Linked DNA regions of Homo sapiens. The protein of the gene in region 1 purifies or fractionates together with the protein of each later gene. This does not show direct contact. Each region holds a gene or a part of one and is shown in the gene's direction. Other genes may lie near its edges.

Evidence for each region.
Region 2: the proteins of MOCS1 (region 1) and TMF1 purify together in Homo sapiens (affinity purification with mass spectrometry; one large-scale study listed by BioGRID and IntAct). This does not show direct contact.
Region 3: the proteins of MOCS1 (region 1) and PI4KB purify together in Homo sapiens (affinity purification with mass spectrometry; one large-scale study listed by BioGRID and IntAct). This does not show direct contact.

Annotation. Positions count from the first base shown.
Region 1 is NC_000006.12:39,913,864-39,917,511, reverse strand, and holds part of MOCS1 (molybdenum cofactor biosynthesis protein 1), read left to right. Parts: intron 1-1,279; coding exon 1,280-1,444; intron 1,445-3,648. UniProt on the Homo sapiens protein: Isoform MOCS1A and isoform MOCS1B probably form a complex that catalyzes the conversion of 5'-GTP to cyclic pyranopterin monophosphate (cPMP).
Region 2 is NC_000003.12:69,049,506-69,053,689, reverse strand, and holds the start of TMF1 (TATA element modulatory factor), read left to right. Parts: upstream 1-1,356; 5' UTR 1,357-1,603; coding exon 1,604-1,745; intron 1,746-4,184. UniProt on the Homo sapiens protein: Potential coactivator of the androgen receptor. Mediates STAT3 degradation. May play critical roles in two RAB6-dependent retrograde transport processes: one from endosomes to the Golgi and the other from the Golgi to the ER.
Region 3 is NC_000001.11:151,310,332-151,313,979, reverse strand, and holds part of PI4KB (phosphatidylinositol 4-kinase beta), read left to right. Parts: intron 1-3,648. UniProt on the Homo sapiens protein: Phosphorylates phosphatidylinositol (PI) in the first committed step in the production of the second messenger inositol-1,4,5,-trisphosphate (PIP). May regulate Golgi disintegration/reorganization during mitosis, possibly via its phosphorylation.

The DNA of each region.
Region 1 (3,648 bases):
GTGAGGTACTGCTGAGTGTCACCAGGACTCAGGCCTTGCCCCCGAAATGGTTTGGCTGTGTCCCCACCCAAATCTCTTCTTGAATTGTAGTTCCCATAATCCCCACGTGTCATGGGAGGGACCCAGTAGGAGGTAATTTAATAATGGGGGTGGTTACCCTCATGCTGTTCTCATGATAGTGAGTTTTGACGAGATCTGATGATTTTTATAAGGGGCTTTTCCTGTTTTGCTCAACATTTCTTGCTGCTGCCATGTGAAGAAGGACGTGTTTGCTTCCTCTTCTGCCATGATTGTAAGTTTCCTGAGGCCTCCCTAACCATGCTGAACTGTGAGTCAATGAAACCTCTTTTCTTTATAAATTACCCAGTCTCAGGTATTTCTTTATTAGCAGCATGAGAAGGAACTAATACAGCCCCATGGCTGGCTTAAGTGTCTGCACTGGTGCTTTATCCTTGAGGCAAATGCTTCTGCTGCCTTCCCGTGCCGACAGGGAAGGATGAGGCCAACCTGTCCAGCTCCTTCAAATATAACTCCCCTCTTAGACAACCTCCCTGACATGTAGTAGGACCCCTCTGCTCCTGTACATGTGACTACTAAGCTGCGTGCACACTAGTCACTCCCTGTTTTTACAGAACCTTCTCCTGGGTGCACTTTGAGCTGTGGTCTCTATCCGTCTGGTCGGTTCCATCTGCTTTCTCTCTTTCAGTACTAATTTACCTTTCTGGGCTATCTACGGCATTCTTTCTTACCTTCCAATGCTATTATGGATTTTTAAAATCCTTCCATTATTTCTAGGGATATTTGGTAGAATGGAGCTGTCAAATAGCACTTAATTCAAACACTTTTGTTTCCATTATACAGAGTATCAAGACCTGTGTAGTACTTGGTTGTTAAGAGCAGAGTCCTGAGTCAAGTACACATGGATTTAAATGCCAGCTCTTCTTACTGTGTGAGATTAAGCAATTTTCATAATCTTTCAGAGCACCTCTTTCCTTACCTACTAAATGAGATAATTGTTATTGTGAGGCTTCAATGAGCTAATGTATGCAAAGCCCTCAGCAGAGCACCTAGCACAGAGCACTCAATGCTTAATCTTTTGGTTGTTTTTGTCAGTTTTGATTCTTAGCTTTCTTTTTAAGTTAGGCCTGGTTAATATAGGTCTGCAGAGAGCCTCTTTTCCATCCATCTTGTCTGGACAAAGAGTTTTGCCTTCCAGCCCTTTTCCCGGCCTCACCAAGAACAAGCAAGCAGTCTGACCCCCTTTCTGTTGTCCTTACAGCCCAGCTCCAGCGGCTGGAAGGGCTGAGAACCATAGGTGTTACCACCAATGGCATCAACCTGGCCCGGCTACTGCCCCAGCTTCAGAAGGCTGGTCTCAGTGCCATCAACATCAGCCTGGACACCCTGGTGCCTGCCAAGTTTGAGTTCATTGTCCGCAGGAAAGGTGAGCGGATGTGGATGGGGTGGGTGTCCCTCCCAGGGCCTGCACATAGCTGGGGAGGGCATGGCCATTGCTGAGCCAGGGGCCTGGTCACTTCCTCTTGGTGTCTGGGCTATCAGTAAGTCAAAGCACTTATTTCTCACCCCTCATCTTTGCCAAATGTATGTCAGGGACTTTGGGGGTCAGACGCTAATGACCTAGGGTGACCAACCTCCCCACCACCCCAGCCCCAGTTTGCCCAGGACTTGAGGGGGTTTTAGAATGAAGGACTTGAAGTTTTAAAACCAAGACAGTCTGTGGCAAACTGGGCCGAGTTGGTCATTCTACGATGAGCTCTGAAGAAACACGGGACAGCCCAGGGTGGAAGTAGCCACCCTGGGATGCCAGGGTCTGGGTGTATGCTGCCAGGAGGGGGTCCCCCAGCAGGCCCCCATGGTTATCCCTGTGCCCACCTGGGTATAAGCCCCTCCTATGCACCTCCTACTACAGGCACAGCCATACCCTCCACTCACCTGCCTCAGGAGGCCCAAGGTAGACAGGTGGAGCCAGCCTCGAGCTCTGGGTCACAGGAGACCAGTGCCTGGCTTCCCTTTGGCATGGACCTCATGTTGGGGCAAAGGCTCTTCAGGTTGGGATACCCTTTGATATTTGGGAGGGGGTACATGACTGAGGACTCTGGAGGATCAGAGGGGTGGCAGGGAGACCCAGATCTCCTTCCTCTTCCTTGGAAACAGCTTCAAGATCAGCCCCACCACCTTCTTTCCTTCCTTTTCTTAAACGGGGTGTGATGCCTTGCTTAATACCCTCCATGTGCTGAGGAAGCACTCATGGTGTCTCTTTCCTCTATGGAGGCCTGCTCCAGGTGCTGTGGAGGGGACAGAAGACACATAAGACATTGCCCTGTCCTTACAGGCTGCTAAGGGCCAAAAGATGTCATTCCATGGGACAGCCTTTGCTTGTCTTGTGGTACTGATTAAAGAGTTACAGAGAGGAAGAAAGAACTCTTAGCAGGAGAGAACTAGGAGGGCTTCAAGGAGGATGCATGCATGCTGGCCTTGAGGAACTGGAGGGTTTCAATCAATGGCACATACTCTGAGGGGGAGCAGGAGTACAGAACCTGCAAGGGCTCTACGGTGGGAAAGTGGGAGGTGGATCTGTGGGCTGTACTGCCCGCAAACACGTTCTCCCTTTTTGTCTCTTATTTCCTGGCACATGGATTGGAGACATCAGATCTTCCCTCCCATTCATACTCTTTTGTCCACCACCTGCCTTTGGAGGGGAGTGTTTTACAGAAAAGAAAACTTATAGTTCTAGGTTATCCTAGCAGCATTATTTTTTTCAAAGCTATACATTTTTCCCTTTACCCTCTCACTGAGCAGTCTGAAAATGCTGCAAGGAAACCATGGAGGCCATCTCTAGGCACCCTGTCTCACAGGTGACCACCCAGGCTGTGCAGGCTGGGGGTGCTGGAGGGGGCCAGGATGCAGTAGGTGATCAAGTGATTGGATGCATGAGAGAACTGGGCAGTGAGAAGTCAGCCTGGGGTCACATTGACTGTGGTTAATGATTGTTGAGACAATAATTGCTTACCAGCCCTGGAACAGCACCTGTGCGTAGTAGGTGCTCAGAGAGTATGTGTTGAGTGAATAATTGATGGACTGTTGAGGAAAAAACACTGAAACGGGAGTGGAAAACCTGCATTCTGAAAGATGGAGCCATGGGGCTTTGAGCAGAGCATTGCCTCACTCTGGGTCTTGGTTTCCTCCCGTAGACTACAAGAGGGTTCAACTAGATCCAGGGTCAGCATGCTATGGCCCACAGGCCACATCTAGCCCCCTGCCTGTTTTCATGTAGCCTTTGAGCCAAGAATGCATTTTACAGATAGCATTCAAAATCAGTTAATGATAGGGAACATTAACTATGAACCCCATTTAAGCAAAATATTGTCCCTGCAAAAAGAATCGCATTATTGTATCCCATTTGTAGATCTGTTTTACAAGACACTGTAGTCAGTTATTACTATTACATTTTGAATTTAGCCAACACTTTGTGACATGTACTTACACGGATCCTCAATTTTGCCTCTTGGCTTGCAAAGCCTACGATATTACTCTGGCCTGTTTTAGAAAACGTTTGCCAATCTCCAGACTAGATGGGCTCTGGTGCTTTTCTGTGGGGGTGTGGGGGAAGAGGAGAGAGGACAGAAG
Region 2 (4,184 bases), on another chromosome or scaffold:
TGTACATGACTAAATTGTTAGTTTTAACATGCAAGTTTTTACTGTAGTTAGATAAAATTATTGGAAGATGATTATAACTTCTTAAGGGGTTCAATCTGATTTTTTAAAAGAAAAATAATTCTTTTTTGCAGAGTTCCTTGCAGTGGGGTAAAATATTCAAATATGGGAGGCAGGCATATAAGGTAAATAATCACAGCAGGGAGGGTGTAATAGGATGAGTGATAGGGGTCTGTGGCAAACTGGAGTGAGTGAAAATTATTTGGTGACCACTCTGGCTGACTATTCCCATGCTTGGTATTCATATTTTTCAAAAGCAGCTGGAAATCTAGATTTTTGAATGAAATCTGGCTTTTAGTTAGGATTTTGTCTTTAACTTGGGCCCAAACCAAATATAGCTGCAGACTGGATTAGGAAGGCCACCAATTTAAGGTATTTTCCCATGTCCAAATGTTCGAAGAGAATGCACACAGAAAAGGTTATGTTTTAAGTAATATGCACAGTGCACATTGTTAGGATAACAGCTTTAGTGCTTCCTAGGTGTCTTAGTCCATTTGGACTGCTGTAACAAATTGCCATAAACTGGGTGGCTTATAAGCAGTAGCAATTTGTTTCTTAACAGTTCTAGAGGCTGAGAAGTCCAAGATAAGGAGCCGGCAGATTTGGTGTCTGGTGAGGGCTGCTATTCTGGCTTAGAGTTGGTGCCTTCTTGCCGTGAGCTCCCTTGGGCCTCTCTTATAAGGGCACTAACCCCATTTATGAGGGCTCCATCATCATCTAATCATCTCCTAAAGGCTCCCCTTAATACTGTCCCATTGGAGATTAGGTTTCAACATAGGAATTTGTGCAGGGGACACCGACAGACCACAGTATTAGGGGTATTTTGACTGCAGCAATGAGTTTACTACTATTTTGAGAGAGAGGTTGTGCTTTATGCACCATGTGTTCCACGAGTTGGACACAGTGTTCATACGTGATCCTGTCTTTTAGGCAAGCCCAAACAAGTGTTTCTCCTTACAATACCAAGTTAATACAGAGCTTATTAAATATTTGAGACAAAGGGCTAAGAGAAGTGTGAGGCCCAATTTCCCTTTGCAATTATTGCTGGCAAGGTGCAAGCTTTTAGCACGTGAACTATTTTCCTGGAAAGCACACACACGAAAACTTGAATATTCCTTCCGGGGAAATCGACCTCTATCGGTAGCCATAGCTTCCCCTTCGCTAAGAACTGCTGTAAGCACGAAATCGACATCAATAGAAACCCTTCCGCGTTCCTCGGTAACTAACGGCAACCCTGCGCTCCCGGATGTGACGTCAACGTTCTTCTGTTCTTCCGTCTGTCGACCGAACTCTGGGCTCGTAGATTTGGTTGCTGTGTACGTGGAAGAAGCAAGCGCATGCGCACATGGGCCCCCTTCGTCTCAGCTGTGCGGGAACGGCCGAGGGTAACATCCCGGGCTCGCGGGAGGCTGTCGGGGTAATGGCCACACGCTGACAGAACCAGCCGAGTGGAAAAGGGGAGCGAAGCCGTTCCTCTGCACCCTTCCCCAGGCCTGAGGCCTTCCCGCTTGGTGCTGCCGCCGCCACTGCCGGCTGAGGAGGGGCGATGAGTTGGTTCAACGCCTCCCAGCTCTCCAGCTTCGCTAAGCAGGCCCTGTCCCAGGCCCAGAAGTCTATTGACAGGGTTCTGGACATCCAGGAAGAGGAGCCGAGCATCTGGGCCGAGACCATTCCGTATGGAGAGCCGGGTAAGAGAGAGAGGAGCGGGGTTCCTGGCTCCCGGAGGCTGCTGTTCTCTTGATGCAGGCAGGTTAAGTGGTGTAGAGAGGGGTCCTTCCTTGCTGAGAGAGTTTTCAGGAAGTAATTTCTCCCCGGCCCGTTCCCTAATGCTGCTTCAGCCTCCAAGTCGGTCTTTGCTGTTTTCCTGAGGGAAAACCCAGATCCAGGTTCCCCCTTGTCTTTCTTTGGTCCTGGGTGCGAGGCTTGTGGACTTGGATGACAGGGGACTTGGTTGGTTGGTCTTGCCCTCAAGCTCTCCCTCGACGCAGCTTCCAAGCACAACCTTCCCGAACCTGAACCTCGAATTGCTTCGCGTCTCGGGCACTGTTGGGATCCAAGGTCTGAAGTACGTAAATCATCAGGGAAGGGAAGAACAATCGCTAACAGTCAGTGAACATTTCGCGCTTGGTAGCGCGTAATGTGGTTTTATGTTGTTGTTGAGACGGAGTCTCACTCCGTCGCCCAGGCTGGAGTGCAGTGGCGCGATCTCGGCTCACTGCAACCTCCGCCTCCCAGGTTCTAGCGATTCTCCTTCCCCAGCCTCCCTAGTAGCTGGGATTACAGGCGCCCACCACCACGCCCGGCAACTTTTTGTATTTTTAGTAGGGACGGGGTTTCACTATGTTGGCCAGGCTGGTGGAACTCCTGACTTAAGGCGATCCACCCACCTCGGCCTCCTAAAGTGCTGGGATTACAGGCACGAGCCTGTAATGTGCTTTTTTATGGCCTTCTCATCTTCAGAACAACTCCCAGAGAGAGCTTGGTTTATATCCGTGTTTTACATAAGAGGAAAATGAGGCCCAGAATGGCCAAGTAACTTGCTCTAGGTCACACGGCGGAGGAGGATTAGAATGTGCCGGAGGTATTAGCCGGAAAATGTGTGACCCAAGATTTCTGGATGGTATCACATTTTATTTCTGAATAGCCAAGTCTCTCTTTGCAGTTTCATTGAGCTTAATCTTTCAGGGATCTTCATTCAGTTGCTTTTGACTCTTAAGTCTAAGGAACAGTTCAGCATTTGATGTGTGGGGTAAAGATTTGCTGGTGTTGGGGGATGTGAACCTTTGTGTGAAAAAGGATAAGAGATGTACTTGACTACTCCTTTCTGGTTTCTGTTCTTAATTTTACATCATTGAAAAGTCAGGACCTAAATTTGAGGTACCTCAGTTTAAGATATTTTGGTCCATGTGTGTATGTGATGATCCTCTTTACTTTTTACAAGATGTCATATAACCTTGCTGGAGTAACTCTGTTTTTTCATATGTGCCCCAGTTAATTAGAATTACTAAACTTTAGATAAGATAGAATATAGGTTTTACATATAAGGATATTTGTTTTCGGAAAATGCCCATAGTCTTCAGAATGGTATAATTTAGATGGATACCAAATAACCCTGGGATTATATAAAGTATTCTCCAAGAGGCAAAATTAATTCCTGTCATCTTTTGAATGTATTTAAATTAATCAGACATAATCTTGGTTGTTCATTTGCATATTTAATTTTGATTTTCTCTGGTTTGGATATTGTGCAAATGAATGTGTAGAACTATGCCTCCAAACTGAAGTTTTCTACATACTTTTCATCCTAACTGCCTTTGAAGTCATACATATATTTACATATATATATATTTGTTTTTTTGTTTTTTTTTTTTTTGAGACACAGTCTCACTCTGTCATCCAGGCTGGAGTGCAGTGGTGCCATCTCTGTTCACTGCAGATTCTGTCTCCTGAGCTCAAGTGATTCTCGTGCCTCAACCTCCCGAGTAGCTGGGATTGCAGGTTTGCGTCACCACACCTGCCTAATTTTTGTAATTTTAGTAGAGACAGGGTTTTACCATGTTGGCCAGGCTGGTCTTGAACTCCTGACCTCAGGTGGTCCGCCCGCCTCGGCCTCCCAAAGTGCTGAGATTACAAGCGTGAGCCACTGCGCCTGGCCTGAAGTCATATTAAAGGATAGATTCTACTATAAGGCTTGATAGTTTTTAGAAGCTTTTAGTTACTTGTGCTCTCTCCACCAACTTCTAATTGTGAATATTTTGTGAATATTTTGTTCAGCCACATTTTAATTTGAAAAAGAAAACATTTTTAAAGAAATGCTTTAAATACTTTAACGAATATACCATTTTTAAGATCCTGATTATGCCATTTTTAAAAATCAGGATTTTAGTAGTAGCTATTTGTATGACTGATATGATAATTAACTTTTTCCCCAAGAAAACAGTCATTTTCTTTGTAGCGCTTTTTTAAAAACCCTAGTGTCAACCACCTCTATGTCAAAGAGCAATAGTTCTTAAAAAAACACACATTTCTGAAATTTATAATGACCTTGTAATTTCTGACATAATTTAGAATTTGAGAACAAAACTTCCTCTTAGAGTGGGCTTGGAGAGTGGGATTTAGAGAATCAG
Region 3 (3,648 bases), on another chromosome or scaffold:
CAGGTATTATTTTGCCAGCAAGGAAACTGAGGCTTAGAAAGATTAGATGTTTTGCCCAAGGTCCCTCAACTAGTGAATGTCAGACCAGGACTCAAATCTCCAGCTGGTGCTCATAATCATTCAGCTGAACTACCTTGGTTATTTCTCAATATCTACTTCCCAAGGTCCCCAGCTGTCAGAAGCCATGTGGGGAAGAACGGCCCAGGCTATGGCCATCTGAGCTTCCACATCCATGCACAGGCAAAGCCAAAACTGTTGTCAGAACTAGAATGAACCGTTTTCATATCTGGTTGAGCTTGGCAGCAGAGCCCTGGGTCATGAAGAGAAGTTGCTGCAGAACAAGAAGAGTCATCCAGATTCTAGTGGAACATGAAGGGTTGGATAGCTGTCTCATCTTGGAGTCAAACCTGTAGCAGAGGGTGAGCAGCTGGAAGTGAATTCCTTGGTGCCTCTTGTCAGGCTTGGCTTTTCTCTTTATCCATTTTGTAGTGCTCATCTTAGGACCAGAAAAGCTGAGGCCTCAGGGCTTTTCTTACTCTGCTGATCCTTGGTCCCTCTTTCCTTACATCTAACTCCCACTCCAGGATAAGATTATGGATGGCACTGAGAGGCAGGTATTAGGTGAATACTTACATCATTTAGGGTGGGTTCTGTAGCTGCCGTTCTTCCAACCTGACTCCTTATCTTGGGTCACTAGATCCAGGAGAGGAAGGAGATACTATGTTCCCAGGCACTCCTGCGTTATCTGATACTGACAGAATGAAATACCTGAATTCATTATGGCTCCACAGAAAATGGGAGAGCAAGAAAGAGACAGAAACATGAATATCACTAGGTTTCTAAGCATTAGAGTCGTCAGCACAGGGGTCTCTCCCAGCCCTTTTCCTTCCATCCGTCCTTCCTTCCTTCCTTCCTTCCTTCCTTCCGCCCACCCGTCTGTCTGTCCGTCCGCCCTTTTTCTTGCAACAGGGTCTTGCTCTGTTGCCCAGGCTGGCGTGCAGTGGCACAGTCATAGCTCACTGTAGCCTTTAACTCCTGGGCTCAAGCAATCCTCCCATCTTAGCCTCCCAAGTACCTGGGGCTACAGCTATGTACCACCACACCTGGCTAATTTTTAAAAAATTTTTTTGTAAAGATGAGGTCGTGCTCTATTGCCCAAGCTAGTCTCAAACTCCTGGCTTCAAGTCATCCTCTCGCCTCAGCCTCCCAAGTCACTGGGATTACAGGCATGAGTGACTAGACCCAGCCCCTTTGGCATTTTGAGGATGCGTCTGTCAAGGCTTTTGTCCCCTAAATACCAAAGGAATTGGTTTTCCTTTTACTCATCCTTCTTCCCTTTCATGTAACATTCATTCACTCAACATGTAGTTATTGACTTTGTACAATGTCCAAAGCCGTGAGCTGTGCTGTGGAGGACGGGGGATAAAATGTTATCCTTCCCTCTAGGAACATGTGAAGTAATAATGAAAACCCCAGTATCTATGGAACTGTTTAGTTTGTGACTCTCTTGAAAAAGTTGTTTTCTGCCATAAGCAGGAAGTATACAGCTTACTAAAATGAGGCACATAATTATCTAAGACCTAAGCAGAGATACTCTAGGAGAATCTCTAGGTAGACCCTAACACTCTGCTCCCAGTCTCTTGCTTTTCTTTTAGGTTCTGAGTTTAATACTATGCTCCTACCACCAGTAGAGGGGCTCCCAAGGATGAGGTCGGGCCTCAAAGAAGAGGCTCAGGGGCAGCATGTACAGTTCTCTTCCTGCCCATGGTCTCCCTGCAGAGTTGTTCTCTGCTCAGCTCTCACAGTGTTCTCTTTCTTACTATGAGGAATCCTTTACACTCTCTCCCACAGTCAGAAGGCTTTGTGCTGATTTTTCACATTTTCCACCACTGCTCCTCAAAGCCTGCCGCTTCAAAGCCATTTTATCAGCCTAGTCGGGGAACTCTGCCCAGGCAGTTTGTCCTCCCATTTGTAACCAAATGGCAAATATTTTGGTATAGAATGGGGGAGCTAAAAGGAGAGAGTGATTTAGGTATCACACCCTCCCCGATATGATGACACTGTTAGTAGATTAGCTTTGTCTTTTCAGGACTGCAACCTTTGTACAGAGAAATCTGCCGCATGTCACACTGGAAGCCCCAGTAGGCCTTCTAGCTTGATATGGTGTGATGTCAGCTTCTTGCTTCATCTTTACTCCCCGGAGCTGACTCAGTGTGAGTGACTCAAGCCCAGGGAGTAGGAGAGGAGCAGGTCATGATATACCTCCCTTCCCCCAGGGCTGTCAATGAGTCAGACAGGACCTGTCTGTGACAGAATCAGCTGGAGCGTTGCTCAGGGAGCCAATATCTTGCCTGCTGTTCCTTCTCCAACCAGCTCATAGGTAGAAATAGAACCACTAATTCATAATAGACTCTGACATCCTCACTGCCTTAATTCTCCCACCACCTTCTACCCAAAATGGAAGAGTTGTTGCCTTAGGGGCATGTTTCCAAATGTGGCTTCTCCCTCAAAGTGCTCCAGTCCCCAGATTCTTCAAGGAAGGACCTGACTATAGGACCTCCAGCTAGAATAGAACTGAAACCATGGAATTGAGTTCAAGTGGATGCTTGAATCTACTCAGCAGATTTCAGAGTAGAAACTCACCACTGCCCTCCTGCCCTGGGAGCTCTTAGGACTTTGTCTTTTAAGTCTAACCTCCCCCACCCCGACCTCAACGTCCCCCACAACCTAGATTTGTGCACACGTGCTGCTCTGTTCCCTGCCCTGGTAGACCATGTTGGACAGAACCCAGGATGAGCCCTGTGCATGAGTGTTGCCTCAGAGCTGCTGAGTGAGAGTTTGACACCATCTCTTTCCCCTGTTTTTGCACACGGACACATATGACACAGCAATGGGGTGATGTTTAGATAAATCCTCTGGGCTGGGACTAGGACAGCTGCTATCCAGCTAGTCAGCTTTCTAGATGGATATAGCTAACTCCCCAACTTATATCAAAAATTGTAGTATATTGATTGTCATGTGGATAGCCTGATAGGAAGCCTAAGGAGGTTTGGTAGATAGGAGATTGATTTATCCTTCACTCCCATCAGCATCCAGCCCAGAGATTTTGGGCTTATTGGTCTAGGATGCTCTTTGTCACAGAGGTTCAAGGTTGGGATTCAGCTTCCCAGGGTGATAATGAGGCTAATTAGAGAAGAGGTATACCTGCCACTGAAAGTTTAGCTTTTCTTCCTCCCTGAGGTTTCCAAAAAGCTGGAGGAACATGGGGTTTCCAGTATGGGAGCCATGCAGCTTATTAAGTTCAGTCCTGTGGTGGTCCCCATGGAGAAGGATTTGGTTGAGAGCATGTGAGTGGGTAAAAAAAAAGAGCAGGGAAGCTTGGCAGTGCAGTTACTGCCCTAGGGACCCAGCTTTAGAGCTTTGGCCTAGAAGGAAGATCCATTCAGTTGAGAATAGAAGTGAATAAAGTGAAAAGCAGAGGCTGCTTTGTCTCTTCAGTCCTTCTGACCTTAAAGTCTGAGCTGCCCTTCCAGCATCTCCTACAAGTGGTCAAGCATCTGGGCAAGTAGCATTTCTGAGTTGACTTTCTTTTATTAAAGCAGAAAGGTAGAACTTCACTAGAGAAGCAGTTACGATCCAAGTTGGAGC